5 linked regions of the Homo sapiens genome follow. The protein of the gene in region 4 interacts with the protein of the main gene of each other region in a pairwise test. Each region holds a gene or a part of one and is shown on either strand. Other genes may lie near its edges. The genes, in order: UBIAD1, C1GALT1, BNIP2, SLC7A14 and MFF.

The links.
Region 1: the proteins of SLC7A14 (region 4) and UBIAD1 interact in binary tests that used the Homo sapiens proteins (3 or more experiments, as listed by UniProt).
Region 2: the proteins of SLC7A14 (region 4) and C1GALT1 interact in a two-hybrid assay, tested with the Homo sapiens proteins (one large-scale study listed by BioGRID).
Region 3: the proteins of SLC7A14 (region 4) and BNIP2 interact in binary tests that used the Homo sapiens proteins (3 or more experiments, as listed by UniProt).
Region 5: the proteins of SLC7A14 (region 4) and MFF interact in binary tests that used the Homo sapiens proteins (3 or more experiments, as listed by UniProt).

The regions. Positions count from the first base shown.
Region 1 is NC_000001.11:11,284,106-11,289,811, forward strand, and holds the end of UBIAD1 (ubiA prenyltransferase domain-containing protein 1), read left to right. Parts: intron 1-1,538; coding exon 1,539-2,026; 3' UTR 2,027-4,329; downstream 4,330-5,706. UniProt on the Homo sapiens protein: Prenyltransferase that mediates the formation of menaquinone-4 (MK-4) and coenzyme Q10. MK-4 is a vitamin K2 isoform present at high concentrations in the brain, kidney and pancreas, and is required for endothelial cell development.
Region 2 is NC_000007.14:7,184,572-7,190,908, reverse strand, and holds part of C1GALT1 (glycoprotein-N-acetylgalactosamine 3-beta-galactosyltransferase 1), read right to left. Parts: intron 6,113-6,337; exon of another isoform or gene 6,051-6,112; intron 5,526-6,050; exon of another isoform or gene 5,432-5,525; intron 1-5,431. UniProt on the Homo sapiens protein: Glycosyltransferase that generates the core 1 O-glycan Gal-beta1-3GalNAc-alpha1-Ser/Thr (T antigen), which is a precursor for many extended O-glycans in glycoproteins.
Region 3 is NC_000015.10:59,670,508-59,676,844, reverse strand, and holds part of BNIP2 (BCL2/adenovirus E1B 19 kDa protein-interacting protein 2), read left to right. Parts: intron 1-4,105; coding exon 4,106-4,208; intron 4,209-5,530; coding exon 5,531-5,662; intron 5,663-6,337.
Region 4 is NC_000003.12:170,467,502-170,473,838, forward strand, and holds part of SLC7A14 (solute carrier family 7 member 14), read right to left. Parts: intron 1-6,337. UniProt on the Homo sapiens protein: Imports 4-aminobutanoate (GABA) into lysosomes. May act as a GABA sensor that regulates mTORC2-dependent INS signaling and gluconeogenesis. The transport mechanism and substrate selectivity remain to be elucidated.
Region 5 is NC_000002.12:227,334,013-227,340,349, reverse strand, and holds part of MFF (mitochondrial fission factor), read right to left. Parts: intron 59-6,337; coding exon 1-58. UniProt on the Homo sapiens protein: Plays a role in mitochondrial and peroxisomal fission. Promotes the recruitment and association of the fission mediator dynamin-related protein 1 (DNM1L) to the mitochondrial surface.

The sequences.
Region 1 (5,706 bases), on a different chromosome or scaffold from region 4:
GGAGATTAATTAGAAGCATGATGAAGTTTATGAACATGGCAGGCATATTGCCATGGGAGCATATTGCAAGGGGATCAAATGTGGCTTAGGGGTGAGAGGAGGTGGTCCTGGGGAATGGTCTTTAAAGTCTTAAAGGGTGAGTAGAGTTAGCCAGGCCAAGGGAGGGGTGTCTGAAGGCTCTGACGGATTGGAAGAAGTCTGTGTGAAGAGGGGAGGAGAGCTCAAGGTGAGGCAGGAGAGGTAGGGCTGGGCCACAGGTGAGCCAGGTTAAAGATCTGGGACTTTTATCCCCAGGATGAGTGGTTGATAAGGGTTTAAGTGTATGTTGGGGGAGGGGGTGGTCAGATTCCTTTATTTATTTATTTACTAATTTTTTTGAGACAGAGTCTTGCTCTGTCTGCCAGGCTGGAGTGCAGTAGCATGATCTTGGCTTACTGCAACCTCTGCCTCCAAGGCTCAAGCATTTTCCCTGCCTCAGCCTCCCGAGTAGCTGGGATTACAGGCGTGTGCCACACGCTTGGCTAATTTTTGTATTTTTAGTAGAGATGGGGTTTCACCCTGTTGGCCAGGCTGATCTGGAAGTCCTGACCTCAGGTAATCTGCCCGCCTTGGCCTCCCAGAGTGCTGGGATTACAGGTGTGAGCCACTGTGCCCACCCAGCCAGATTCCTATTTTTAAAGGTTCACTCTAACGCCTTTTTAGAGATTAGATTAGGGATGGAGAGGGGGAGGGGTTATGAGAGGGGAAGCTGATAGACCAGTTTGGAGGATGTTGCAGTATCCCAGGCATAAGATGACCATGAGGTAGATTTGGTAAGGGGGATGGAGGGTGGCCCCGGGGATGGAGAGAATGGATAGTTTTGAAGGAAGTGGGTTAGACAGGCTTTGAAGTAGATGAGCAGGACAGAAACAGGAGGTAGGGGTGGTTTAGTTTCAATCTCATAGGAGACAGAGGAGGAAAGCAGCATTATAACTCTCCTGTCCTCGCTGTTTTGCTTATCGCAGGGGTGCAGGTTTAAGGACCCCGAAATTTCACTGAAATTCACTGGCCGTTTTTAAAACCAGAAGATGCCTTGAGATTGTAGGGGAAGGAGGTGGAAAAGTAGAAGGCCAGAGTGGCTATTCTGTGAGGGATTGATCTCACGGGGTCTTGCAGGGGTTGGTGAAGGGTGAAAGATAGCAAAGAACTGGATTCTAAGACCTTTAGATCCTTCCTGGGCTCTCCCATTGAACTAAGAGTATAGTGGGTGCCTAGTGTGCTATGTTGCAGAGCTCTGTTGGGGGACAGTAGGAAGGGAAACTTGGGTATGAACCTGGGAAGAGGGACTTGAGGCCTCACTGGGCATTCTCTCTGCACCTGTGGCATTGGAGAAGAAATCAGAATTTGCTCTGTGGGGTTAAGGGATGAAATGAGTGCCCACCTGCACAGTCTAAGGATTTACCATTTTCAGCCGGAAGTGGCCTGCCTCTTCACTGGTGAACAGTCCCTAAATTTCCAGCCTTGGTCTCACACCAACTCTCTGGATTTTCTGGCCGCAGGAATTGGATTCAAGTACGTGGCTCTGGGAGACCTCATCATCCTCATCACTTTTGGCCCGCTGGCTGTGATGTTCGCCTACGCCATCCAGGTGGGGTCCCTGGCCATCTTCCCACTGGTCTATGCCATCCCCCTCGCCCTCAGCACCGAGGCCATTCTCCATTCCAACAACACCAGGGACATGGAGTCCGACCGGGAGGCTGGTATCGTCACGCTGGCCATCCTCATCGGCCCCACGTTCTCCTACATTCTCTACAACACACTGCTCTTCCTGCCCTACCTGGTCTTCAGCATCCTGGCCACACACTGCACCATCAGCCTGGCACTCCCCCTGCTTACCATTCCCATGGCCTTCTCCCTTGAGAGACAGTTTCGAAGCCAGGCCTTCAACAAACTGCCCCAGAGGACTGCCAAGCTCAACCTCCTGCTGGGACTTTTCTATGTCTTTGGCATCATTCTGGCACCAGCAGGCAGTCTGCCCAAAATTTAAGGGGACAAGTAGCTCCCCCCACGACATGTCTCCCTTTCTTAGAATATATTAAAGTCAGAGTCTCTGAGGAAGGAATGTGATTTGGCAGTCAGGGTACTAAGCATGGGTGGGAACTCCTGCCTTATAAAAATTGTTTTTGTGTTCTTAAAGATAATATGTTGTTTTTCTGTTTTTTGTTTTTTCCATTTTATGGGGAATTTAAAAACCATTCTTGTATCAGAAGGTGAATTAGGCGCATGGTCTTTGTTTTATTAATAATTTCCACTAGAGGGTGTTCTCAGGTCACTTTGCAGTGAAGTGGACTTAGTTCCTCCTTGTTCTGTACAAAATGTCTCCAGACTTTGTAAAGGAGCTGCCCAGTTTGGCCTCCTGTCCCGAAAAGACCCTAATAACTAGGCAGAGTGTTGTCCTGCTTTCTTCGTCTCGTAGGATGTGCTATGATTGGTGCCAGGCCTCACTAACACAGGGGCTACCTGTCTCTTATTCTCAGCACCTGTGTCCTGAGATACGCTGCCTGAGACAGAGAGAGTCCCTCATTAACAGCCTGTGTGGCTGTCAGCTTTTTGCCTAAATTGTGATTCAGATGCTTTTGTTCTCTCTCCTTTCACTTATTGCCACAGTTGAGGAAAAGTGTCAGATTACCCTGCAGCAAGACAAGCCAAGGACTGGGAGGGAAAAAAAAACCACTCTGGAGGCAACTGAGAAAATCACTGCTTTTGGATAGGAATCAGTAGGGTGGCTGTTTTCCCTTTGTTGAATCTACTAGAGTGACAGGAAGGACTCCCAGCCCTTTCAGTAACTATCAGGAGCCCTGAAACGGTAGAGGCACTGCCATCCTTGTGGGATACTCAAAGCCCACAGGGCTTTTCCCTCCCTATTGCATCTTCTGATGCTCCCCACACCTACCCTCCACCTCTCCACCTCTGTGGTGTTCCCATTTGTGTGTTTCCCATCTGTGGAGCCAGACTGAGCAATAGCTTAGCAGCGAGTCAGGGACAGCTGCCACTTTCCACAGAGCCACAGGATGGGCAGAGCAGGGACCCAGGGAATGAATAGCCAGTGGACAAACAGTCTTGAGCTCTGTTCAGCCAGAGTGATGGGCCCTGCCAGTTAAGGGGCTGTGTCTTCATCCTTGAAGACAGATGTGCAATATTGACCCTGCCTCTCCCCAGGGCTTTGTGGAAAGATAGTTGAGGGCTTTAGTGAGATCACACTCAGAGTGGGGCAATTCCAGCATTTATCCTGGCTGCGTTTCATTGCATTGTCTGTGAAGTATAATTTCTGGGCCAGAATTGCTCAGTTGCATTTGATCCAGGACTATAGATTGGAAATGGGTCATCATTGTTTTCTGTTGTGATTATAGCCATTCTAGTAGGCGTTTAAGGTCATGGCCTGCAGAAAATGATGTAAGAACTAGTTCTTAATCTTTCAGATCAAGCTAATGATGATATGGAACCTTGAGTTCGAATTGATTGGTTTACTTGGAAAAAAACATGTTTGAAAATTGCAAAAGTTCCGCCGGGCGCGGTGGCTCATGCCTGTAATCCCAGCACTTTGGGAGGCCGAGACGGGCGGATCACGAGGTCAGGAGATCGAGACCATCTTGGCTAACACGGTGAAACCCCGTTTCTACTAAAAATACAAAAAATTAGCCAGGCGTGTTGGCGGGCGCCTGTAGTCCCAGCTACCTGGGCGGCTGAGGCAGGAGCATGGCGTGAACCCAGGAGGCGGAGCTTGCAGTGAGCTGAGATCATGCCACTGCACTCCAACCTGGGGGACACAGCAAGACTCCGTCTCAAAAAAAAAAAAAGAAAAAGAAAATTGCAAAAGTTCCTCTAAAGTTAAATCAAAGGTGGTTTGTCTAGCAGAGAGCCAGAATCTTCTAATAGTGGGCAGAGCCCAGAGACAAGGGGAAGAAAGATGACCTTCTCCCCAGTCCTTCCCAGCACCATTTTTGTTTCACACCAGGCTTGTGGCATTTTGGTGCTCACAGGGGTTTTGCCTTCTGACCTCTCCTTGGAGTAGGCCATTCTCATGCAGGGCTCACCCTGAGGCAGGAGGACCAAGGGCTCCCTGCGTCCACGGACCACGTATGCCTTGGTGGTCACTCCCATCGGGGCTATCAGTTCTGCACTGTGCCCTGGTGCGGATTTTAATGCATATTTTTATATATAAATGTTCCCAAAGGCCAAATTTGTTGCCAGGTTTTATACGCAGGTCACCATAATTTGTATTATGTTCCCTGAGTCAATGAAGGTTTTCTTTAGACTTCTTAATTAAAAAGAGAAGAAAGAAAATGTTCACCAATGGTCTGGCTTCTGGTTTTTGCTTTCCTCATACTTACTGTCTGATTGTGAACTCTGATTTGTAAATCTCAGGGAGACCAAGGCAGTGACATTGGACATTCAGGCTGTGCAGAGGGGCACCTGGTCTTTGGTGATGAGTTTGGGTAGGGTTTGACCAGATTCGACAGGCCTTTAGAAAAGGCAGCAGGGACTGGGCATGGTGGCTCACGCTTGTAATCACAGTAATTTGTGAGGCCAAGGTGAGAGGATTGCTTGAGCCCAGGAGTTTGAGACCAGCCTAAGTAACGTAGTAAGACCCCATCTCTACAAAAAAAATTTTAAAAAGTTAGCTGGGCGTGGTGGTGCATGCCTGTAGTCTCAGCTACTCAGGAGGCTGAGGTGGAAGGATCGCTTGAACCTAGCAGGTCGAGGCTGCAGTGAGGTATGATCACGCCACTGCACATCCGCCTGGGCGACAGAGCGAGACACTGTCTCAAAAAAAAAAACAAAACAAAAAACGTTGAGGGCTGCATGTAGCTACAGTGGATTTGCCAAGAGCCAGTCAGCAGTCAGGCCAGATTAACCTCGTTTCATTTTTCTTTTTCTTGATAGGGTCACTGTGCTGCTAGATGGAGAACATGAGGTAGATTGAGTACATGTGGGTTTCAGCTAGGCATTGGACAATATATCCTATGAACAAGGCAGAGAGACGTGGGATGGATAACAGTGGAGTTAGATAAATTCCTGAGAGACTGAGCAGGCGGTGGGAGAGAGCTAACTGATCAGCATGTCAGTGGCAGCTGGGAAGGAGCCCTTAGTAGCAGTTGGAGCCCTGTCCTCTGCCCTTTGCTCCGCTGGATTCAACACCTGTTATTAATGACGCGGATGAGGCAGCCAAAATGAAAGGTTTCATGAACCTTGGAGGAAGAGCTTACAAAATGACAATTAGGAGCCTCATAAATCAAAAGGCTGCTTTGATGGGTCAAAAGAAAAATGTAGTGTGAATAAATACAAAGCAATACACTAAGGTCCCAAAATCAACAGCATAAACATCAGAGAGGGGGAGAGCCATGATGTGACAGCCATGGAGATAGGGGGGTATGAGTTTTCTCAGTGACTGGAATCTGACATCACTTGTCTTTATTTATTTATTTATTATTTTTTTTGAGACTATGTCTCAGTGTCGCCTGGGCTAGAATGGAGTGGCGTGATCTCGGCTCACTGCAACCTCTGCCTCCCGGATTCAAAGCCATTCTCCTGCCTCAGCCTCCCCAGTAGCTGGGATTACAGGCACGTACCACCACACCTAGCTAATTTTTGTATATATATGTTTTATATATATCTCACTCTGTCGCACGGGCTAGAGTGCAGTGGCGCAATCTCGGCTCACTGCAA
Region 2 (6,337 bases), on a different chromosome or scaffold from region 4:
TGTAAAGTAATCCCAGCTAAAACACAGGAAGATTTTAAAAAATTATATAACTTGGCAAAAAGTATTCTAAAACTTTGGACCAATAAACATGTGGGTGTAACTGGGAAATTCTGGAAAGGGGCATTGTGGGAAGGGGTGTACTAATCTGATCTGATCAATTTTAAGTTATAAAAAAGATTTTAAAAAATTAATGTGGCAAAAATTATTCTAAATGTTATCTGGAAAAATAGGTGAGTATCACTGGAAAACTCTTGAAAGGGGAACTGGGGAAGGGGAAGAGACAAAGTTTACTACATATAAAAATATATTACCTTAAAAAAGGTAATGAAAACAATTTGGTATTTATGCTGAACAAACTCTCAGTCTGTTTAAAAAAATGCATTTGTTAATACTAAAGACAATGTGCTGAGAAACTGTTCTCTACATCAGACTGTCAGAAACTATGTTATTTGAAATTTTATAAAGTGAGAATGGAACATCCCACTCTCGCACTGATGGTAGATCATTATGAAACAGAAGCAACCTCACTTTGCAACTCAGAGCTTCAGATAAGGGGTTTCCAGACACAACATTCCACATGTATCGCGATTTTGTAGTCTCCAGGGAATCAGAATCCTGAGTCAGCTTCTCAGCCCAGGCCTGATGTTTATTAACCCTTGACACACAGTCTTGCCGTGCTTTAAGCTTATCAAATATTGTTGCGTTTAAACTTTATCCAAACTCCACCATTCTCCAAAATCCTATAATAACCCTGGTTCCTTCTTTAGAAATGCTGACATTTCCTCTGCTGTGCAAGTCTCCTTCACTGCAGCAAGCTAATTAACCTTTGTCAGCCTACAGATGTGTCCCTGGTGGTCTCTACCAGATGAATCTTATAAAGGGACTTCATCAGGTTGAAATAAAGACTCTATGGAAAACAAAAATTCATGTGGAAATTTAATACATAATAAACAGCATTTCAAATCAAGAAAAAGGTGGCTTATTGAAGAAATGGTATTGAATTAATTAATCTTTTGGGGAAAAAAAAACAAAACCAGCTGGATCCTTACTTTCTAGTAACAATTTCAAATGTTTCTAAGATTTCAGTATTTTAGAAAATGGAATTAAAACAAAACTGGAAGAAAATATATTTTTGCATTTTGATATTACGAATTGAGATCTCTCCCACACTCAGAAGCTGTGACTATTAAAACACTATGAGTTTATTCATTGGATAAACTTCTGGCAATGAAGTCGCTGGTTAAAGGGCATATTTCTTTATGAAATATATTTTTTTAATGTACAGCAAAAAGAACCAAAAAGTATCATAAATAATAAAAAAGATAGTTAACCAAATACAAAAACAGATAAAGAAAATAAAAGATTCACAGTAAAAAATGGTCAACGATGTTCAAATTTCACTCACAAAGGTAAATCAAATGAAGAGATATTATTTTTAACCTAACATATTGGCAAAACTTTTAAAGTTTATTAACAGCTGTTATTGACACAGATACAAGAAAACTGGTAGTCCTGTATTCTTTCTCATAATACATACTTTTACTGTCTTTTGGAAGGGCATTTCACAACATCTTTTTAAATTTTTAACTAATTATGCCTTGATATATCACTTCATGATCAGAAACTTATTTTACAGATATAATCATAGAAGTCAGCCAAGATGCTCGACAGCCATAACCATAAGACGTCTGTCTGTTGATGAGGAACCAGTTTTTTAAAAAAAAGATAGAGCCATAGCATAGAATAGTAGTAGCTGTTAAAAACAATGATCTACATGTGCTGATAGGGAAAATCTTTGTGCTTTTGACAAAGGTTACTTTTTATTGTTAATAAGGTATACTGGGTATTTTTTTAAACATCAGAAAATGTAAAGAAAACAAAAGGAACAAACCTAAACAAATGAAAGAAAATCATAGACAGAAAAGAGTAAATTTTCTTTACCATCTCTACCACTATCTCTCCCCAAAAGTAACTGCTTTCGTATCGTTGGGTAATGCCTATATCATCACATATGTATGTTCAGCTTTTAATTTACATCAGAGATCATGCTTATCGGTTAGTCTGCACTTTAATTTACCCCTTCACTTATTTTATCCATAACACAATGTCATTCATTTTAACAACTGTATAAGATAAAAGGTTTATTTTTTAAGACAATGTACCGAAATATTTTCTAGTATGATTTCACTTGGCTTTTTAAATGTTTCTGTATATATTTTAAAATCTGTTAAGATATATATACATATGATATTTAACAAGAGCTATCTCTGGGAACTAGCACTGGGTGGCATGAGCAAGGAAGGACAAATTTTTTTTTATTTTATAACCTTTTGATGTTTTAATTTTGCATCGGGTACACACATTACTTTTCTGATAAAAATTAAATAAAGGGAGGCAATTTTTATCTACAGAGTGAAATAATATGATAAAAATTAAAGTCCACTAATTTCTCCACACTTGTCAAACAAAATGATCTCTTGATCCTTTCAGACTTCTCCAAGTTTCAGATTCACATACACAAATGCCTGCTAAATACTTCCACCTGGACCATAGGCATCTCTAATTCAACACCTCCAAAGTGACTCATTACTTTCCTCTGCTCATTTTACCTTAATTACTGGTAATTACCTAAATTATTCACCAATGGGTTCCTATTTCACTCAGAGCCACAGGATTATCTAAACTACAAAGTACACAGATATTCTTAATGCTTCCCTTATCTTCACCCCAAATCCAATTACCAAGTCTTGCCAACATTACTTCCTAAATATTATTCTAATCCATTGTCTCCTCTCCATTTCTAGTATTTATCCTATTTCAGACTCTCCTCTCTCCCCACAGGCTATTACAATATCTAACCTCTCTGACTCAAGTGCTATCCCTCTTTAACTCATACCCCGTCACCAGAATGAGCTCTCTAAAATGAAAAGCTGACCATGTCACCCCATGAATCCTTTCACGGAACTCCACTGCCTACAAGACAAAAACTAAACATTTTTTATTAACATGATATATAAATAAAGGCTATGACCTAGAGCCTGTCCAGGTTTCCAGCCTCGTCTTTTGCTATTCTGTGCCTTATAATTTATGTCTGCTTCAGCAATCCTGAACTGTCTACAGTTACTGAAAGGTTCCCAATATGGTCAGCTCCTCTTCCTACTGTCTTCTCTGACTACAACACTTGCTTCCCACCAACCTCTGTAAATCCCATTAAACTAAGGTTTCTTAACCTTGGCGCTACTGACATTAAGAGCTGGATAACTCTCTGTTGTGGAAGCCGTCCGGTCCTCTGTAGGATATTTAGCCAGCATCCCTGGCCTTTACTCACTAGATGCCAGTAGTATTCCCCCTAGTTGTGACAAACAAAAATGTCTGTAGACATTGCTAAATGTTTCCAGGTAACAACCTCTCCACTAATTTGTTAAAACTGTTTCTCACATTTACATAAAAGATCTCCCCTGTCTCTACTAAAAATACAAAAAAAAAAAGAAATTAGCTGGGCATGGTGGCAGGTGCCTGTAGTCCCAGCTACTGGGGAGGCTGAGGCAGGAGAATGGCGTGAACCCAGGAGGCAGAGCTTGCAGTGAGCTGAGATCGCGCCACTGCACTCCAGCCTGGGCGACAGAGTGAGACTCCGTCTCAAAAAAAAAAAAATCTCAGGAAGAATAGAGATAAGACTACTTTTAACACTAATTGCCTTTGAGGAGGACAACTGGGTAACTGGAGTGGGATGAAAAAAACTTACTTTTCAAACCATTTACTGTGCGTTTTTAGTCTTGTACCTCTTCTGACTTCTCCACTGCTATCACCCTGGTCTGAGCAACCTCTCTGTCTTTTAACTACTCCAACAACATTCTAACCAACTTTCCCCTTCCTTTAGCCTTTGCTTCTTTGGCCCATTTTTACCAATAGCCACAATGATCCTTTTAAAACTGAAATCAGATCACATCACTCATTTGCTCAAAACCCTCCCGTCTTCCTAATCTTAGAGAGCCAAAACCTTACAAGGATCTACCCACAATCTGCATCCTACTCCACCCCTTTCTTTCTGATCTCTTCTCCCCAGTATTTGGTGTTTTTGTAGGTCAAAAATGAACAAACAGCAGCAATTTCATAGATTGAACCTAATACTAACTGCTTGTCATTCCTCAAACGTGCCAGGGTCTTCACACTTAACTGTTCTCTGCTAAGAACACGCACCCAGGTGCTCATATGGCTCACTCTCCAACTCCTTCAGGTCTTTACTTTTCAGGAGTCTTCACTGGCCACCCTATGCTTACCCACAGCACCTATTAATATCAAATATTATTTTACTTATTCATCTTGTTTACTGTCTCTTTTCCATCTTGATCAGTGGTTCTGAAACCTGAGTCTCCATCAGAATCATTTGGAAGGCTAGTTAAATAAAGAGTTCTGGGATGGAGCCTGAAAATTTCAATTTCTAACAACTTCCCAGGTGATGATGATGCTGCAGATCCAGGGACCACATTTTTAGAACCCGTGTTTCAGAATGTAAGCTCCATGAGGACAGAGATTTTTGCCTATCCACTGTTTTATCTCCAGGACCTGGCACATAGTAAGCACTTGCTGTGGTCTGAATGTTTGTCTCCTCCAAAACTCATGTTGAACCTTAATCACCACTGTGGCAGTATTGAGAGCTGGAGTCTTTAAATGGTGACTGGGTACTAAGGGTTCAGCCCTCATGAATGGGTTATCATGGGAAAGGAACTGGTAGCTTTACAAGAAAGAAAGAAAGAAAGAAAGAGTTCTGGGCTAGCATGCTCGGCCCCCTCACCATGTGGTGCCCTGTGCTATCCTCAGGACTCTGCAGAGTCCCTACCAGCAAATGCCCTCACCAGATGTGGCCCCCTGAACCAGGACTTTTCAGCCTTCCTAACTGTAAGGAATAAATTTCTTTTCTTTATAGATTATCCAGTTTCAGATATTCTGCTAGAGGCAACAGAAAACAGATTAAGACATCACTGATATATGTAAATAAATGTAAGTGTCCCATCCTGTTTCCACTATAGCCTCTGATTCAGTCTATAATGCTAAACATTTACTGAACGATGTAAAAGATAAACCGTGCAACTGTTACAGGTTAAACTGTGTCCCCACAAAAGATAGGTTGAAGTCCTAATTCCAGTACCTCTGCACGTGACCTTATTTCAAAATAGGGTCTTTGCAGATGTAATCAAGTTAAGATGAGGTGATTAGGGTGGATCTTAATCCAATACGACTAGTATCCTTGCAAGAAGTGGAGCACACCATCTGAAGACAGAGCCACACAGGGATTATGTTGTGATAACAGAGTCACAGACTGGAGTGACATAGCTGCAAGCCAAAAAATGCTAAGGATTGGCAGTAACACAACAAGCTAAGAGGCATGGAACAGATTCTCCCCTCGAACCTTGAGAGAGCATGGCCATACCTACATCTTGATTTCAGACATCTTGCCTCCAGAACTGAGACAATAAATCTGTTGTTTTAAATCACCCAGTTTGTCGTATTTTGTTACCGCAGCCCTAGAAAATACAATGACCAAGAATGCAAATAACTATGCCAAGCTGTATTTAATTTCAAATTCTGCCTATTATCCAACATCTAGCCGTTTAAATGTGCTTTAATATACAGGTTTCCCATTCCAGAATCTCCCTAATATTGCCTCTCGTTGCCCCCAACACGCCCCTTCAATGTGCAAGGCAGCACATACTACAGGTGCTAGATAATTTATTTAGACTTTCCTTTCAGTTTCCCCCACCTTCTTATGTGCTTCCCTAAATCACAAACACCAGTTTCTTTATATATTTTTTTTCTCCCTCTTCCTATTCTCACATATTACAGATTTTGGCATATATATTCCCCTTGGACATTTGAATTAGCTGCAAAATAATTTAAGTACACATTGGAGTTCCTCTCTAACCAGATTTTAAGATAAAAGGCTAACTTCTCATTTTATGGAACAAGTCTCCTTCCCGCTCCCCACCTTTCTTCTTTTAAAAGAATGACTTAATCCCACTGAATTTGAAGTAAAAAGATTTTTGTCATACCTTTCTTTCAGCCTTGCTATAGTTTGTACATCAGCGTCTTTAATCAAATCTTAAGAAATCTTCTAAAAGAAAAGATGGTTGTATTGGGAAGCTTAAACTTTTAAGCCTATCTGAATTTAATTTCAGCATCAAGCTTTCCATTTTCTACTTAAGGTTTATTTATAGCTGCACTGTCACAAAAATTCCAATCAATGATTTTACCACACAAAGACTCTAAATTACCATGGCTTATAATGTTAAACTGCATAATGCAATTTTAATTTTAGCACAAATCAATACACAAATAG
Region 3 (6,337 bases), on a different chromosome or scaffold from region 4:
AGAATTCCCGGCAGGAAGGGAAGTAGTAGCGGCGCTGCAGGGCCAGGCGGCCACCGCAGATATCCGAAAAGCTCCGCTCATCCTCCATGACACCCCAACTCTGCCGCCCGCACCGCACCGCGCGGCACTCCACTGCGCTCGCCTGCCCTAGCCGTTTCATGCAATATCAGAATTCTAAATACTTTTAGAAACTCTGCCTAGAGATATTATGTAATTTTGAAAGAATAATAAGCATTTCTCATTCATTTTAGAAACATGACAGGTTTAAAGTAAAAGAATAAAAGTACCATTTAAAAATGATTATATGCATACAGTAAGTTGAAAAAGTACAAAAGAATTTGTAGTGAAAACTGTCAGGTTGGGCACGGTGGCTCAGGTTTGTAATCCCAGCAATTTGGGAGGCTGAGGCAGGAGGATTACTTGAGCCCAGGAGTTCAGGACCAGCTTGGGCAACATAGACCTCGTCTCCACAAAAAAATAAAAAAAATAAAAAAATAAATAAAATTAGCCAGGAGTGGTGGCATATGCCTGTAGTCCCAGCTACTTAGGAGGCTGGGGTGGGAGGAGAGAGAGCTTGAGCTTGGGAAGATGAGGCTTCAGTGGCCGTGATCATCCCACTGCACTCTAGTTTTTTGTTTTGTTTTGGTTTTTGACCCTGTCTCAAAATTAAAAAATTTTTTAAACTGTCTCTAGGCTACCCAAAACTGGGACTGAACAGTCTCCCTAATTTATAAACAGTGAAATGCTCTGATCTTAAGTGTGCAGTTCAATGAGTTTTGACAAATGCCTATATAACCATATATACCCATATATATAAAACCCATACCCCTAAAAATGTAGAACATTTTCATTGTCCCAGAAGAATTATTTAGTACCCCTGTGCAATGAATACTCAGCTTCGGTAGCCACTGTCATATCTACCCCCTGATTAGTTTTGCCTCTTCTAGAATTTCATATATAGTAACTAAAATCATCCTATGCACTCTTTTGTTTACTTTTCAGCATGAAGTTTTTGAGATTCATCCATGTTGTTGCACGTATCCACAGTACATTCCTTCTTATTGCTGAGTAGTTTTCCATTGCTTGGATAAACCATAATTTGCTTATCCGTTTTTTTTTATGTGCATGTGAGTTGTTTCCAGCTTGGGCTGTTATAAACAAAACTGCTTTGAACATTCTTGTAGAAGTCATTTATGGATATAAGTAAAACTTGGACTCTTTTTGTTTTGTTTTGTTTTGAGACAGAGTCTTGCTCTGTCACCCAGGCTGGAGTGCAGTGGCGTGACAGCTCACTGCAACCTCTGCCTCCTCGGTTCAAGGGATTCTCCTGCCTCAGTCTCCCGAGTAGCTGGGATTACAGGTGCACGCCACCATGCCCAGCTAATTTTTTGTATTTTTAGTAGAGAAAGGGTTTCACCATGTTAGCCAGGATGGTCTCGATCACCTGACCTCGTGATTTGCTCACCCCAGCCTCCTGAAGTGCTGGGATTACAGGCATGAGCCACCGTGCCCGGCCCTAAAACTTGGACTTTTTAACCTTAACTCTTAATTTGCCTTAAAACCGTGAACAAATTTTTTTTTCTTTTTTTTTTTTTTGAGATGGAGTCTCATTCTGTCACCCAGGCTGGAGTGCAGTGGCGCAATCTCGGCTCACTGCAACCTCTGCCTCCCAGGCTCAAGCGATACGCCAGCCTCAGCCTCCCAAGTAGGTGGGACTACAGGTGCACGCCACCACGCCTGGCTAATTTTTGTATTTTTAGTAGAGACGGGGTTTCACCATATTGGCCAGGCTGGTCTCGAACTCCTGACCTTGTGATCTGCCCGCCTCAGCCTCCCAAAGTGCTGGGATTACAGGCATGAGCCACAGTGCCCAGGCCAAATTATTTTTTAATAGAGAACTAGTTCACTCCACACTTCTATACAGCACCCACTTTCCATACTTATGGGATATACAAAAATACAAGGCTTAAGTCCCTGCCCTTAAGAAATAGGAAAAGCCATAAAAGTTTAAGTTATAAATCCTTTCAATCTAACAGTACCATATATAGAAGTTAACCTAGGCACATTGTAAATAGTGCTAGAATGTTAGTGGTAAGTCAGAACACAACTCACTGTAGAGCATGTCATACTACCTTAAATCCTCCTAACACAGGACGGAGGGCATATGGGTCAAGCAGATTGATTTTTTTTCAGGGTCATTTCCACTTGATTTACTCTCTGCCAGATGCATTCCCCTGCTTATTTCTACAGTCTTCATTCATCTGAAAGCAAATCACATGAATATTTGTAGTTGCATTCTTCTGCCTAATTTAATCGTACTCAGATGAAGAAAATGGCGTAATCTGCATCAGGAAGTCCACAGACATACATTATTCAGCTAGTTCACAGGAATCAAATTATAAGACCTGATTTATGGCTTAAATCTCTTATCTTTCAGAAATAGCACTTTTTTTATAGGGGAAAATAAGACCACCTTATTTTATTGCATTACCACACTTAATATATTTTGTGACTGAGTGATTAAGAAAGGTAGTGAAGATTCTGATGTTCTTGAAATGTTCAAATCTTTTCATGTGCAAATTTGTAAGCAATAGAAATGAAGGTTAAAGCAGAAGTATTTGCTACTAAATATTGGCTTAATATCTAAAGACTGCTGTTGAAACATACATATTTTAGCGCTGTTTTCCATTACTGAAAATTATGTCAGAGATGTAATTTAGTTTGTTTTTTTGTTTTTGTTTTTGTTTTTTTTTTGAGACCCAAGTCTTGCTCTGTTGCCCAGGCTGGAGTGCAGTGGTGCAGTCTCGACTCACTGCAACCTCCGCCTCCCAGGTTTGAATGATTGTCCTGCCTCAGCCTCCTGAGTAGCTGGGACTACAGGTGCACACCACCACACCCAGCTAATTGTTTATATCTTTAGTAGAGATGGGGTTTCGCCATGTTGGCCAGGCTGGTCTCAAAATTCCTGGCCTTAAGTGATCTGCCCACCTCAGCCTCCCGAAGTGCTGGAATTACAAGCATGAGCCACCTCGCCCGGCCTAATTTAGTTTTAATGTCCTAATTTCTACAAAATGCTAGCATTTTTAAATATAAACTTACCTTTTAAAAATCACCCACTTATGGCTCTGGCGATGTGGCTCATGCCCAGTGCTTTGGGAGGCCAAAGGAGGAGGATTGCTTAAGGCCAGGAGTTCACGACCAGTCTGAGCAACACAGTGAAACCCTATCTCTACAAAAAAAATTTTATAAAGGTTAACCAGGCATGTTTGTGTGCGCTGTATCCCCAGCTCCTCTGGAGGCTATGAGGTGGGAAGATCCCTTGAGCCCAGAAGTTCAAGGCTGCATGAGCTGTGATTGCGCCACTGCACTCCATCCTGGGCAATGGAGCAAGATGCTATCCTCTAAAAAAAAATTTAAAAAAGCACCCACTTTGCCGGGCACGGTGGCTCACGCCTGTAATCCCAGCACTGTGGGAGGCTGAGGCAGGCAGATCACGAGGTCAGGAGTTCGAGACCAGTCTGGCCAACTTAGTGAAACCCCATCTCTACTAAAAATACACAAAAAATTAGCCGGGCACGGTGGTGTGCGCTTATAATCCCAGCTACTCGGGAGGCAGGAGAATCGCGTGAAGCCAGGAGGCGGAGGTTGCAGTGAGCCGAGATTGTGCCACTGCCCTCCAGCCTGGACGACAGAACGAGACTCCATCTAAAAAAAAAAAAAAAGCACCCACTTTAACCATAAGCATCATAGAAATAAATAAAAATACATTGCAGTTATTGTATTGTGTCTGTATTGTATTGGGTTATATCACTATATTTGTCTACCTGCTAAAATAGGGCTGGCTTTTTAAATATGCGAATTTAAGTGGTCTTGGGTTTTTTTGTTTTTTCTGTCCACCGTCCTCTTTAAATTTTACTGTTCTCTTTTTGGGAAGAAGACATTAAAATTCTATATAAGACCATATAAGATTTACAAAACATACATTTAATACAGAAATCTGTGAAAAGTAAACTCTTATTTATAATTTACTAATCATACAGATGTCTTCTAAAAATGCCTAAGAGTAAAATCGTGCTGGTGATACTGTCTTTGGTTTCTTTTTTAGGATATTATGGGGATGGATTAAATGCCATTGTTGTGTTTGCTGTCTGTTTCATGCCTGAAAGTAGTCAGCCTAACTATAGATACCTGATGGACAATCTTTTTAAGTAAGTATATATTAAACAAAAACATTTGGACAGAATTGTGAGCTAATTAGATCTACACCTTAAGAAACTTAACCTTTTCAAAAATTATAAATATTCCAGTTCTTTGGGAGACTGAAGTGGGCAGATCACTTGAGTCCAGGAGTTGGAGACCAGCCTAGGCGATATGACAAAGCTCTTTCTCTACAAAATCAAAAAATTAGCCAGGCATGGTAGTATGGGCCTGTAGCCCCACCTACTCAGGAGGCTGAGGTGGAAGTATCACCTGAGCCCATGAGGTCAAAGCTGCAGTGAACTGTGATTTTGCCACTGCACTCTACCCTGGGTGACAGAGTAAGACCCTGTCTCAGAAAAATAAATATCCCAGATCTTTTCACGTGCAAGTTTGTGAACAACAGAATGAAGGTTAAAGTAAAAGTATTTGTTACTAGATACAGGACTAGATGAGTCCTTATTCTTTGATATTATGGAACGATAGTTTTCCAATTCAAGAGAAAAATTGTCATTTTAAAACTGGGAAATATATCTCAGATTATTTGTTCCAACTTTGTTTCGTTTTGTTTTGAGATGGAGTTTCACTCTGTCACCCAGGCTGGAGTGCAGTGGTACAACTACGGCTCCCTGCAGCCTTGACCTCACGGGCTCAAGCCATCCTCCTACCTCAGCCTCCCTAGTGGCTGGGACTGCAGGCACATGTCACCACATCCTGCTGACTTCTTAATTTTTGGTAGAGACAGAGTCTCACTATGTTGCCAGGGTTGGTCTCAAACTCCTGGGCTCAAGTAAGCCACCATGCCTTACCTGTCCCAACTGTTTTATGTTAACATTTGCAGGCACATTAAGTGTAAAGAAGTGATTTTTGTCTCAAAATCATGTGGCTAAATTACATTTACCCCTAGAAGGCCAATATAATTGAGCCAAATCAGTTCTTTTTCCACAAGGTCATTCTATTTCTCAGGTTAGTGCAGTTTTTAAAAACCGTATTGTGGAAAGTTTCAGACATACACAGGGGTAAAGAGAAGTATATCAAATCTTCATGTATCAGTCACTTCAACAATTACCAATTTATACTTTGTTCCCACTTCTAACCCCCAGTTTACAAGTTTGAAGCAAATCCCAGGAGCAAATCATTTCACCTAGAAACATTTCAAAATATATCTCTAAAAAATAAGATAATCGTAATACTAGCTAATGCGGTTTGAGCATTTTCATTGTTGCTCTCATTGTAGGAGAGAGGAAGGAATTGTATAATGGTACAATTTAGAGAACCTAGTTCAGTTATGCACAGTGATTTTTAAGGCTTAAACTTAATTTGTTTTTTACAGATATGTTATTGGCACTTTGGAGCTATTAGTAGCAGAAAACTACATGATAGTTTATTTAAATGGTGCAACAACTCGAAGAAAAATGCCCAGTCTGGGATGGCTCAGGAAATGTTATCAGCAAATTGATAGAAGGTAATACAAATACAAGTTGAAAGCTAGTCTGAAAAAATTTTATAATGGCTTTAGGAAATCAAACTTTGTTTTTCGTTGCTATTTTTTTTTTTTAACTTTTTTTTTTTTTGAGACGGAGTTTCACTCTTGTTGCCCAGGCTGGAGTGCAATGGCACAATCTCGGTTCACCGCAACCTCCACCTCCCAGGTTCAAGCGATTCTCCTGCCTCAGCCTCCCAAGTAGCTGGGATTACAGGCATGCGCCACCACGCCCAGCTAATGTTGTATTTTTTGTAGAGACGGGGTTTCTCCATGTTGGTCAGGCTGGTCTCGAACTCCTGACCTTAGGTGATCCACCCGCCTCGGCCTCCTGAAGTGCTGGGATTACAGGCGTGAGCCACCGCGCCCAGCCTTCTGTTGCTATTTTAAAACACCATTTATTTTTTAAATTTTATTTATTTATTTCATGGCAGGTTTCTGTTTTCTAAAGATAGCATTTTAGAATATTGTGAGGGAAATCAATTTTGATTTTTCTATAAAGAATAACCTTAATTCTTCAAACTTACAAAGTAGCTTTATATTTCTCCTTATTTAATTGAAGACTTTCTCCTTATTTATAAGATGCAATTTTCTCCACATTGAACACTTTTTTTCCTATTATTTACGTCTTGGCAAAGGATGGAGAATGTAGTATGT
Region 4 (6,337 bases):
GTATTTTCTTTGCTTTATGTGGTGTTTTGAAAATACTTGAATTAGATGCCTTTTAAAAATTGGGAGATCTTGCGTTAAGTAACCCATATTTACAGATTTTCCTAGAAAAGTCAAAAGGTCTGACAACACTGCATCCACATTTCTACATGGTGATTTTTGGCTGGTGTTGAGAACTGGCTGCCTCTTTAGACAGGATACAGGGTCTCTAGGTTACCTCAGTCCCCACCTCCCATGCTGACGTCGGGCTCATTACACTCATATAGCTGCCAGCCAGGAATTTGCATTTTCTACCCTGGGTGAACTATTTATGGATCAGCAACAGTTTATTCCCAACGTTCTTATAAGATTTGATTATTCTCTGCCTCCAGTTAGGGACTCTATCTCATGTTTCACCTCTTAGCAGCATGCATATATTATCCTGTGATTTACCTTGACATTTTACACTCACTAAAGGCGTGATATATCATGGCCACTCCAAGCTGCCTGCTTTCTTCTGTGTGCTCTCAGAGTGTCTAGTGCATGCTACTATTATGTCCCTTAGAACATCTGTTGTGTGATTATCTGCACAGGGTCGTAGACTCTGCAGAAAATTGGCACTTAATGTTTGTTGAATGAATGGGTGAGAACTCCTGATAAGCGTGAAATGTCCAGTGCAACCTCTGTGTTGATGTCATCCCAATCAAAGGAAAGAAACTTGCCCCCCTCGTTAATATGTAGCATTCATATATGCTAATGTTTCATTTCTATGATTTAAAAAACATGCATAAAAGTCATTTATGAGTACCCATTTTCTTTTTCTTTTCTTTTTTTTTTTGAGACAGGGTCTCACTCTGTTGTCCAGGCTGGAGTGCAGTGGCATGATCTCGGCTCACTGCAGTCTCTGCCTCATGGGCTCAAGCGATTCTCCTGCCTTGGCCTCTCGAGTAGTTGGGACCACAGGCATGTGCCACCACGCCCAGCTAATTTTTGTATTTTTGAGAGATGGAGTTTCACCATGTTGCCCAGGCTGGTCTCAAATTCTTGGACTCAAGTGATCCGCCTGCTTCCACTTCCCAATGTGTTGGGATTACAGGCATGAGCCATCAGTCCTGGCCTGAGTCCCCATTTTCTATCTTGAATAGACTGTGAAGGTTCAGGGCCTGGAAGTCTGGGAACCATAACCTTGGAGTCCATAGAACATGATAAGTAAGACTGTGGGCTCTGTGTTCAAATCCTGCCTTCATCACTGTTAGCTGTGTAACCCTGGTCCCATTACTTAGCCTCTCTGTTCCTCAGCATTCTCTGTAAAACGATGAGAGCTATAGCAACCCTCTTAACATGGGAGTGCTTGAGGATGAAATGAGGTAAGTGGTGGTTCTCAACCCTGGCTGCACTTGAAAGTCACCTGGGGGTGTTTTTTGAACCACTCTGATACCCTAGCCCCATCCTGGAGATTCTGATTTAATTAGTCTGCAGTATAACCCAAGCATAGGTATGTTTTTAAAACTCCACAGGTGATTCCAATGGTCAGAGTGTCCCTGAGATAATGAACTGTGCCTGATGGGCACAGTGTTCCACTGCCCACTCAGCCCACACTATGGCCTAGGCACTGGGGTCCATACAGTATGCAACCTCCTTCCCGGGCCCTAACATCCTCCTCTGAGTAGCACCAGTCTCTTTGACTTTGCTAACCCTGCAGGCTTCTGCTGGGCTGGTTTGCTTAGAACCGCAAGTCAAGCCTGCTTTGCTGCTGTGGTGCTTGAGAAATCTTGCTCTCTTTTGAATTTGAAGTGTGCCTTTTTAAGCTTGGATTTCTCCCTCCTTGTCTCAAATGACTTTGTCCCCCCTCCCTCCCACACTCCCCAGTGAAATCAACTTTCCAGGAGCCAAAGTAAGCACAGATTTATAGTCCTAATTGGTAATAAATCCTAGAGTTAATTATTTGCAGATGTAGCTATTAGTGCTCAAATAATGATTCATCTTTTAAAAGCAGGGTATTTACTCTTTCTTTTCTGTAGGTGGGGGGTGGCTATGGGGGATGGTTATTATCCTTGTGTAGAACAGGGCATCACATTAAGGCCTCTTCTAAGAGTGCCAGTGTGCTGGTTCTTGGAGAATGCCTCTGTCTGAAGCATGTTTGGCATCTGAGAATGGATTTCAGGCGACCAGGCAGGACCTGTGCACACCTCCTTTTGCACTGCTTTGCTTTTTTGCCATCTTTTCTTCTAGACACCCAGGCAGATGCCAAATATTGCCTCCTACTCCTGCTTGGTACCTATTATGCCAATTCTTTCCTTTCTGATGCCCTTCTCTGACTTTGCTTATAGACGACTCATTTCCCTACTGAACTTAATACCATCTTTTTCTTTTCCCTTTGCCCCAAACGTCTCTCCTCTGCCACCACAAAGGTCATTGTTCAGTCACTGGTTTGACATCACTCATCACTGGTTTGTCGATTCCAACAGACCTGTCCCTGCCCCCACAAGGTATTTTGGGTGTCAGATAGATTCATATTATGGGAATTCTCTAAAAACCTTGAGTCATAGATATTTAGAGCTGGAAAAGATGCTATAGATCACCTATGCATTCTAAAACCTTCATTTTACAGAAGAAGAAACAGAGGCTGGGAAAGAATAAGTGACTTGCCTGGGTCTGAGAAGGAGAGGAACCAGCTTTATACATGGAGGGAGAGAAGTCTCTTGCGTGTCTAGTCCTTCACACCTCCTCTCCCCTCCCCCAGGCTGGTTTACAGACTATGCCCACTGCAGTAAACATGTGATAAGAGGTTTACATGTGTTCTTTGGGAGTGGCCAGGCCTGGAAGGAACATGTGTGTGTGTGTGTGTGTGTGTGTGTGTGTATGTGTGTGTGTCTGTGTCTGCGCGCTCTCACATATTGACTGTGGTTACTTTTTACTTTGTGAAGACAATCCATGGAAACTTGCCACATAAATATTTATGGGTCTTTTCATGTTTGCCCTGAACCCCCTGGAGTTTCAAAGGTGTATCACTCTGTCTTCAAAAATGCATTTCAAATGTGAGTACTGTGAAACAAGAAACGACCGTGTGCATGCAGCCTGGTAGAGTAAATAGTAGATGCAAAGCCGTTCCCCTAGGGCTTGGCATTCTGTGTGTCTATCTTTCTTGCTGGCCCTTGAGTCAATTCAGGAAAAGTGGTGTGAAACTGAGAAGGATTGGAGAAAAGAAAAATGGAGGGGGACAAAGAAACAGAGAGGAACAGATGAAGGGAGGGAGGGAGGGAGAGAGAGAGAAGAGAAGAGAAACGTATTACCATCTGTCCCACATAAACAAGGGCTTTGTGTCGGAGGAGTAAACAGAGCTGCTCCACGCCTCCTGTGTGGAAGCAGGGTGTTTTGTTTCTGCTCCTTTTTTTAGTTGGCTTAGAGAATGAAGCATGAGGTAGTTTCTGAAAAATCTGTAGGGGTTCTGGGAATCCTGAATCATCTAAACTAAACTTCACAAAGCATTTCTGTGTGCTGGGTTAGGATAATGATGGATGGTTGATGTTGCACCTTTGTCCCAAAGAGCTCAAAATGTTACACAAACAGTATCTTGTTTTGTTTAGACTCCCTTTAACCTGTCTGGGAAGGGGTGTGTGTGTGTGTGTGTGTGTGTGTGTGTGAGTGATTATGTGCATTGCACACTTCACAGACAGGACAACAGGACAGTGGGCACAGAAAACATAAGGGAAGGTCCACAGCCACACAGTGAGCAGGTGGACAGTGAATCCTTCCAGGTCTCCCCATGCCCTAATCCAGGGCGCTTCTATCCCTCTTACATCTCCCGCCTACCAGGGATGGAAAACAATTTGGCTTAACGTTTTATTTGGAAGAACATATACAAAAGTGGAGTGAATAGGATCATGAATCACCAGCTCCCTTCATGCTCCCTCCCCTGACCCCTTCTCTACAGATTGTTTTGAAACAAATCCCTTCTATCATAGGTTTAATTTGTAAATATTTGAGTATGCATCTCTAAAAAAAGCAGTATCATCACAACTAAAAATTAATAATAATTTCTTAATATTATCTGATATCCAGCAGTATTAAAATTTATCTAAATTATTACATGTGTGTGGAAAACTCTTCACCTTATGAGGCTACACACGTATTCCTATGATGCCATCATTGCTTGAAGTAGTTTTTGGGCACCGCTAATCAAGATGGTCACTGGGAACGGCATCATATACTTTTGTAAACTCTTGCGGAGGGCAATCTAATATCTTTTGAGGGTGGATTTGATTTTGCTATAAGCCAGAAGTCATTTGAAACCAAGCCTCAAGAATAAGATGGCTGATTCACAAATAATACTATTTATTCTATTTGGATATTTAATTCTGCTGTACCTTAAAAGCAGATAACTTAGAGCCATTGCTTTGTAGTTACATAACTTATGTCAGTAAGAAACTAAAGGCAGGTGTGATGGCAAAAATCAGAGGGTGTCAGCCTTTGTGCTGCAGCAGTGTCCTGGAGGCTCCTCTGTGGGGCTGGAATTATTTTTTTTGAGTTGATGGGTCATGGTGGGGGTGCGTGGTGTGTGCAGGAAAGTGACTAGTTAGCAGTAAACACAGAAGTGTTTCAATATTCTGGCTGGGCACGGTGGCTCATGCCTGTAATCCCAGCACTTTGGGAGGCCGAGACAGGTGGATCACCTGAGGTCAGGAGTTCGAGTCCAGCCTGGCCAACATGGTGAAACCCCGTCTACTAAAAAAAAAAAAATAATTAGCTGGGCACGGTGGCGGGCACTGGTAATCCAGCTACATGGGAGGCTGAGGCAGGAGAACTGCTTGAACCCAGGAGGTGGAGGTTGCAGTGAGCTGAGATCACGCCATTGCACTCCAGCCTGGGCGACAGAGTGAGACTCCATCTCAAAAAAAAAAAAGTTTCAATATTTTAACACAGACATGGTTGGACTGGGGCACGTGGGCTGCATGCCTGTCCTGGTCAAAGGTAATGGTGGTTAGTCTTATGAAAGTCTGTTTAAAGGCCGGGCACGGTGGCTCACGCCTGTAATCCCAGCACTTTGGGAGGCGGAGGTGGGTGGATCACGAGGTCAGGAGATCGAGACCATCCTCGCTAACACGGTGAAACCCCGTCTCTACTAAAAAATACAAAAAAATTAGCCGGGCATGGCGGTGGGCACCTGTAGTCCCAGCTACTCCGGAGGCTGAGGCAGGAGAATGGCGTGAACCTGGGAGGCAGAGCTTGCATTGAGCTGAGATTGTGCCACTGCACTCCAGCCTGGGTGACAGAGTGAAGACTCCGTCTCAAAAAAAAAAAAAAAGAAAGTCTGTTTGCAGTGACGGGAAATATTCAAAGGGAGGCTTTGGCTTCTTTTCTAGACAGAAGTTCCCCAGTGGAAAATGTGTCTATGAGAAGTTCAGGCTAGACAAGATCAAGAATCATGCCTTTAGCAATTGAATGGGCTTTCTTTATGATATTAAATACTTTGTGGTTGTAATGCACTTTATATATTAAAAAAAGCACTTTCTCATCCATCATCCCAGGGAAGTTAAGAACTGTGTGATAAATCAGTAATTGAAATAGCATTGGGACTCATATCTCTTAACTCTAACCTGAGGGCTGTTCCTGTCCCACCCAGGTGCCTCCAGGGAAGGTTTACAAAAGCTAAGCTTGCGTTCATATACTAGGGTACCTTGGCATCAGCAGGTGACATACCTGCTCACCCCCCTGTGTTTATCCATCCTGTGAAAATTAAGCAAATGACCCCAAACCTACAAGAAAGAGAGGTGGGAAAGGGAGGTCTTGATCATACAGGAGAAATCCTAGAACAAAAACTCAACTCTGAAGAGACTGAGTAATGCAAACAATAACAGCATATTTCCAACTCTGAGGGCACACACTTAGGTTGCAGACCAGGTCCCCTATCTCCAGAGTTCCTGGGAACTCCCTGTCCTCTCCATGAAGCTCCATACTTAGAACCGAGAGAGGTGGGCCACCTGACCTCAGGCTGGGTGGAGCTGCCTCTTGCTGGGGTGCACTTTCCAGCAGGAAGCTCTGCCCACTGCAGATAGCTGAGGCACTTTGTTATGCCTAGAGGGCTTTTATTTTGACTACTCTGGGATCAACTTTCCAAAACAGACATTTGCCGAAGCAGAAAGGGAGACTGGGTGGTAATGAGAAGGTATCCTTCCCACCCCCACCTCAACCCCACCAACTCCCACTATTGCTGATTATTTTTTAAAATACCACCACGACTCTGTTGACTATAATAACAACAAGGCTTGTTTAATATGGTATGGCCAGGAAGAGCAGGCTTAGGATGAAGTTGGGCGGAGATTCTCTCCATGACCCTGCAGCTGATCTAATGGGAAGTCAT
Region 5 (6,337 bases), on a different chromosome or scaffold from region 4:
GGCGAACAGCATTTTCACTCATAGACCGCTCTCTTTTTAGTCTGCCAACTGCTCGGATCTGTTAAGGCACAAAGAGAGGGAAGGAAATAGAAATATTCTTAGTAGGCTAGTAGCTGCTTAGCATCAAAAGAACCTCGATACAAGGCTACTCAAAAAACTTACAACGAACTAAGAAAAGGCAACCAAGAATTGCTGCCAGGCAGTGTATTACTGACAGACTTGCTTTAAAAACAAAACAAGACACACACACACACACACCCTACTTACTATAATGCAGATAAACAGGAATGTCTATTTACTTTAAGAACGCTACTCTAGTTTCTTTTTAAGTATCAATTTTACTTGGTACAATTATTATTTGTTTAACCTTATGGTATATACTTATTTATAAGAACAATTTATAAAAGTGTTTACAGGCACATATAGGAAATGGAGAGCATCTGTATTATAAATAAACCTTCCTGGCTTCTACGGTTGTAACAAATTAAGATTTGGTTGAATATTTGAAAACTAGACTAAAAATGTATCTAGCTTAATGGTTTTGGCATTCCAGAATGGCTGCAATCTCTAATCCCACATGCTCTTCTTATGAAATGTATCTTTGACCTTCTTCATTAAGAGACAGGATCTGTTTCTTTCCCCTGAAATTCAGAGGGCTGGTGACTCCTATAGAAATGATGCAAAGTGACTTCTGAGGCTAGGTCATAACAGTACAGCTTCTGCCTTTCTTTCCCCAGGTTGCTCATATTTGGAAGAATGGCACCATGACACAAGGAAGGCCAAGTAGCCACACAGTGAGGCCATGTGTAAGTGCACCTGCCAACAACCCTAATGGAGGTCCCAGACAACAGCTAGTACCAAGTGACATGTGAGTGAGCAAACCTTCAGATAACTGCAGATCCAGCTGTTGAGTTATCCTTTGCCTTTGAGACTTCCTAGCTTAGGCCCCAGACATTGAAGAACAGAAACAAGCTTTTCCCTTCACGGCAACTGCAAATACCTAACCCACAGAATGCTTGAGCAAAACATAGGCTTGTTTGTTTTAAGCCACTAAGTTTAAGATGATTTGTTACACAGAAATGGATAACTAGAACAGTGATAATCATTAACTTTTCTGCTTATTTGAAAATACCTTTTTTTTTTTTTTTGAGATAGGATCTTGCTCTGTCATCCAGGCTGGAGTGCAGTGGCATGCTCATGGCTCGTTGCAGCCTCAGCCTCCTGGGCTCAAGTGATCCTTCCATTTTAGCCTCTGAAGTAGCTGGGACTATAGGCACACACCACCGCACCTGGCTAATTTTTGTATTTTGTAGAGATGGGGGTTTTGCCATGTTCCCCAGGCTGGTCTCGAACTCCTGAGCTCAAGTGTTCTGCCCACCTTGGCCTCCCAAAGTGTTGGGATTACAGGTGTGAGCCACTGAGCCCAACAAAAATACTAAAAAAAACAAAACAAACAAAAAACCCCCCACTAAAATAGCCATGGCAACATTATGGTTTTTTTTTTTGTTTTTTTTTGAGACAGAGTCTTGTTCTGTCGCCCAGGCTGCAATGCAGTGGCACAATCTCGGCTTGACTCACTGCAAACTCTGCCTCCCGGGTTCAAGCAATTCTCCTGCCTCGGCATCCTGAGTAGCTGGGATTACAGGTGTGTGCCACCACACCTTGCTCATTTTTGTATTTTCAGTGGAGACGGTGTTTCACCATGTTGGCCAGGCTGGTCTCGAACTCCTAATCTCATGATTTGGCTGCCTCAGCCTCCCAAAGTGCTGGGATTACAGGCGTGAGCCACTGCGCCCGGCCGACATTATGGTTTTTAAAAAATTAAACTTTATAGTAAAAAAACAAATAGTGTGTGAATTAAGGACTTGAAAATTAAGATTTTCAAAATATCAATCAATATTTATTGATGTTTTTGGTTGGGCACGGTGGCTCACACCTGTAATCCCAGGTGGATGTTTTTCTTTTCTTTTTTTTTTTTTTGAGACAGAGTGTCACTCTGTTCCCCCAGGCTGGAGTGCAATGGTGCTATTTCAGCTCACTGCAACCTACACCTCCTGGGTTCAAGCAATTCTCATGCCTCACCCTCCCGAGTAGCTGGGATTACAGGTGCATGCCATCTCGCCCAGATAATTTTTGTTATTTTTAGTAGAGATAGGGTTTCACCATGTTGGCCAGGCTGGTCTTGAACTCCTAACCTCAAGTAATCCACCCACCTTGGCCTCCCAAAGTACTGGGATTACAGGTGTGAGCCACCATGCCCGGCCTGGATGTTTGTTTTGTTTCAATCTGAGATTTTTTTTTTTTTCCAGATAGGGTCTCATTGTGTTGCCCAGGATGGAGTACAGTGGCACAATCTTGGCTTATGCAATCTCTGCCTCCCGGGTTCAAGAGATTTTCATGCCTTAGCCTCCTGAGTAGCTGAGATTACAGGTACACACCATGACCAGCTAATTTTTGTATTTTTTGGTAGAGATGGGGTTTCACCATGTTGGCCAGGCTTGGTGATCTCTTGACCTCAAGAGATCCACCCACTTCGGCTTCCCAAAGTGCTGGGATTACAAATGTGAGCCACTGTGCCTGGCCTCAATGCAGAATTTTAAAATGTCTTTCAGAATCATCCTTCAGTGGTTATGCACTTAGTTTTATTCATCCCGGAGGCTGAGAAATAGTTTCCTAAGTTCAAGCAGCTTCCTGGAAGTTGGGTCACAGTGTCTAGTGCTACATAGTTATATAACATGTAGCACTAGACACTTTGCATGCTTGCATACAATTCTCCTTTAATATGCTTACACCCCAAGTTAAATTTGATTGTTCATAAATTCCTGGGCAAGTAAATGTCCTCTAGGTTTTTTGATGGCTGATTCTCTCAATCTGTTCAAAGCCCACCTCTTCTTCAGGAATCTACTCAGAGCCTTCGTGTTTTTCCTCTATACTCACCCCCATTTTCTGTGGGACTTTTATGCAGAAGGGGGAAAGGTACAAATTATCAATGTAGACTGAACAGTTGGGATAAATATCTTCCCTCCCCAACATGTGCATTGTCCAAAATTTAAAATCACGAATCATGGGGAGAACAGTTAAGCCAGTGACTGCGGGTTTTGGGAAGGACACATAGCCCAATTTGTCAGGAGTGACGAGACCATGCTTGTGCTAAGAGGGCCATAAAACTGTAGCTGTACAAAGAACGCAAGTGTCCATCTCTGAATTTTCCATGCATGAATGTGTAAACATATATACAATTCAGCTTTTCCTCTTCTCTCCAGACTTTTGCTCCATTCTGCTCATTGCAGTCCCAGCTCCTCTTTCCAGAAGTGATGAGGAAGGAAAAAGAGCTCAAGAAACCATCACCAAAGTGTGATCAGACCCATATTCATGAAGTTCTTGATTTTCTAAGCTTCCACAGGACCCTTTTAAATATTCACTGAGTCCCTGGGAGCCCTTCTGCATTTGTTTTAGGATATGTCATATAGCTATGGTTTTTTGCTTCACATCCTTAGCGTTGTCATATCAATTGAACTGGGCACCAATAACCATCTGCTACTTCTTTACGGTAGAATTACAGGTCTAGGGCCTTCTGCTAGACATTCATGGCTTTTGTGTCATCCTTCAGATTCTAAGGCTGCTGCTTTCTAAGTATAATCTGTGTTAAGGGTGGATCTAGCTAGATATTTCTTCTACTCCTCCAGCTCTGGCTGTACACTTTGGATATAACTGCTGTAGAATTTGGCATCCTGTGGAGGATGCCATTTGATGGCTTCTGTATAAAGCTGGCATGGCTTGGAGATAGTTCCATTTCTGAAACCACTCAATGCCTTTACTCTTCTCCTCCAAAATCAGGTCAGATTTTATATATGCCAACTGATTTTGCTCTTTCCAGATTAATTCCTAACTATTGACGATTCTTGTGTATATCTGGGGTTCAGTGCTCTTCCAAAGATTTATTATAGAAATGAATAGTATTCTCGTATTTCTCCTCTTTGAAGTAAGAGATGCCAACTTGGGCAAAAGCTTTTACTCTCTATCTTTAGACCAGTCTGTTTTTTCTTCCAACTTCAATGGCCTTCTCACAAAGCTCTTAGGGTTTATTGTAGCTGATTTTTTCAAAGCATATCACGGCTTGATTGATAGGATTTAACGGCAGAGTCCACATCTTTGACTTAGTCACACTGTTCAAGGTTGTGTCAAATCTTCTTACAGGCAGCATTTTCCAACTCTTTCTTTACAGTTCTTCTTTCTTGTTCTCTGGAAGATCCTTCCCCACTGGCTCCAGTTCGGATTCCTTTTTGAGAAGAGCTGGTAATGTCAGTGTTACAGCTTCTTTCTCCTCATTCACACTGCCTAGTCTACTGTAGGAACACTGAAAACTGTCATGACTTGGGCATTTTGTATTTCATGCCCAGATCACATGGTTTATTGAACAGTTGCTTTGTTAGTTCCCAGCAGACAGAATCACCAAGCAATGGTCTTATCTTAGAGCTGATTTCCAAATATTGGTGGAGATTAGGCATATTGAAAGTGTTTGTCAACTTCCTCTCTTCCAGCCAAGCCTCACATTTTTAAACTGTCTTTGAGCTAAGGGATTATTTATGTTATGTTTTAAGCCCTCCTCAAGGGCTCACCTGGATTCTTTAAGCCAGTTTAAGAACTCAAGTACAACTGCTTTCTACAAATTTATCCCTTGCATCAATCAGGCTTTCAGACAACAATTTTATAGGCTTCCTCATAAGCCTTCTCCTTTCTTGAGATAGGTCAGTGGTTTTCAGTAGGGGGTGATCTTGCCCTGTAGAGAACATTTGGCAATGTCTGGAGGTATTTTCTTTTTTATTTTAAAACACACATAACATACACAATTTTAACCATGTTGAAGTGTACAATTCAGCGGCATTTAGTACACTCACAACGTTGTGTAATCATTACCACTATCTAATTCCGGAATATTTTCATCAGCCCAAAAGGAAACCCCATACTGATTAAGCAGTCACTCTCAAGTCCCCTCTCCTCTAACCCCCTGACAACCACTGCTCTGTATCCTGTCTTCATTCATTTGGCCACTCTGGATATTTCATGTAAGTAGAAAAATGCAATATATGGCCTTTGTTGTCTGGCTTCTTAAACTTTACATGTTTTCAAGGTTCATCCATGTTGTGGCATGTATCAGTACCTTTTTTTTTTTTTTTTGAGAGACAGAGTCTGGCTCTGTTGCCCAGACCGGAGTACAGTGGCACAATCTCGGTTCACTGCTACCTCCACCCCGGGGTTCAAGTGATTCTCCTGCCTCCCCCTCCAGAGTAGCTGGGATTACAGGCGTCCACACCACCATGCCCAGCTAATTTTTGTATTTTCAGTAGAGACAGGGTCTCACCATGTTGGCCAGGCTGGTCTTGAACTCCTGACCTCAAGTGATCTGCCCACCTCAGCCTCCCAAAGTGCTGGGATTGCAGGCATGAGCCACCGCACCCAGCCAGTACCTCATTTTTTTATGGCTGAATAAGAGTTACTATATGGCTAGATGATGTTTTGCTTATCCATTCATCAGCTGATGGATATTTTACTTGCTTCCACCTTTTTGCTATTACAGACATTTTTGGATATCATGACTTGGAAGACGGTAATGGCATCTTGTAGATAGAGATCACAAATGTTGCAAACATTCTACAGTGCAAAAAGGTGGCTCTCACCACAACAAGGAATTTTCCAGTCCAAAATGCCAACAGTGCTGAGGTAGAGCACTATTGCTCTACCTCATTCTAGCATCCACTGCAGAATGATACAGAGCAAATGTTCTGGGGATCTCACTTTATCGATTCTGAGTTAACACCTGAATGAATCATCAATGTTATCAGTACTCAGGCCCTTACTGCTTCTCTATTTCAGTCAATTTCTAGAAGCTACTAGAACCCTGGCTCCCTTACCCCTTCCTCCCTTGCTCACTGCAGTTGAGTGCTTCTTGAAGGCTACTGGACCCTTCTATAAGCTTGTATAAACTTGAAGTCCAAACCATCATCTTTGCTTTCAATAAGCAGCTGGTATTAATCTCAGAAACTCGTCTTTCATTTCAGGATCTGGCTCCTGCCACAGGATTTTAAGTCTCTCCTAACAATAACATTTATATATATTGAGCTTTTAACACGAATTAGAACATGCATGATTACATTTAATTCTCATAACAATCTCATGCACTTGGCATTATTCTTATCTTTATTTCAGAGATACGCCCTAGAACTGTTAAATAACTTGCCCAAAGTTATGTGGTTAGTAAATGGCAAAGTAGGTCTTCAAAATTAGTTCTAATTCTCACACAAACTTTTTTACCCCAGTGTTATACACTCTGAACATC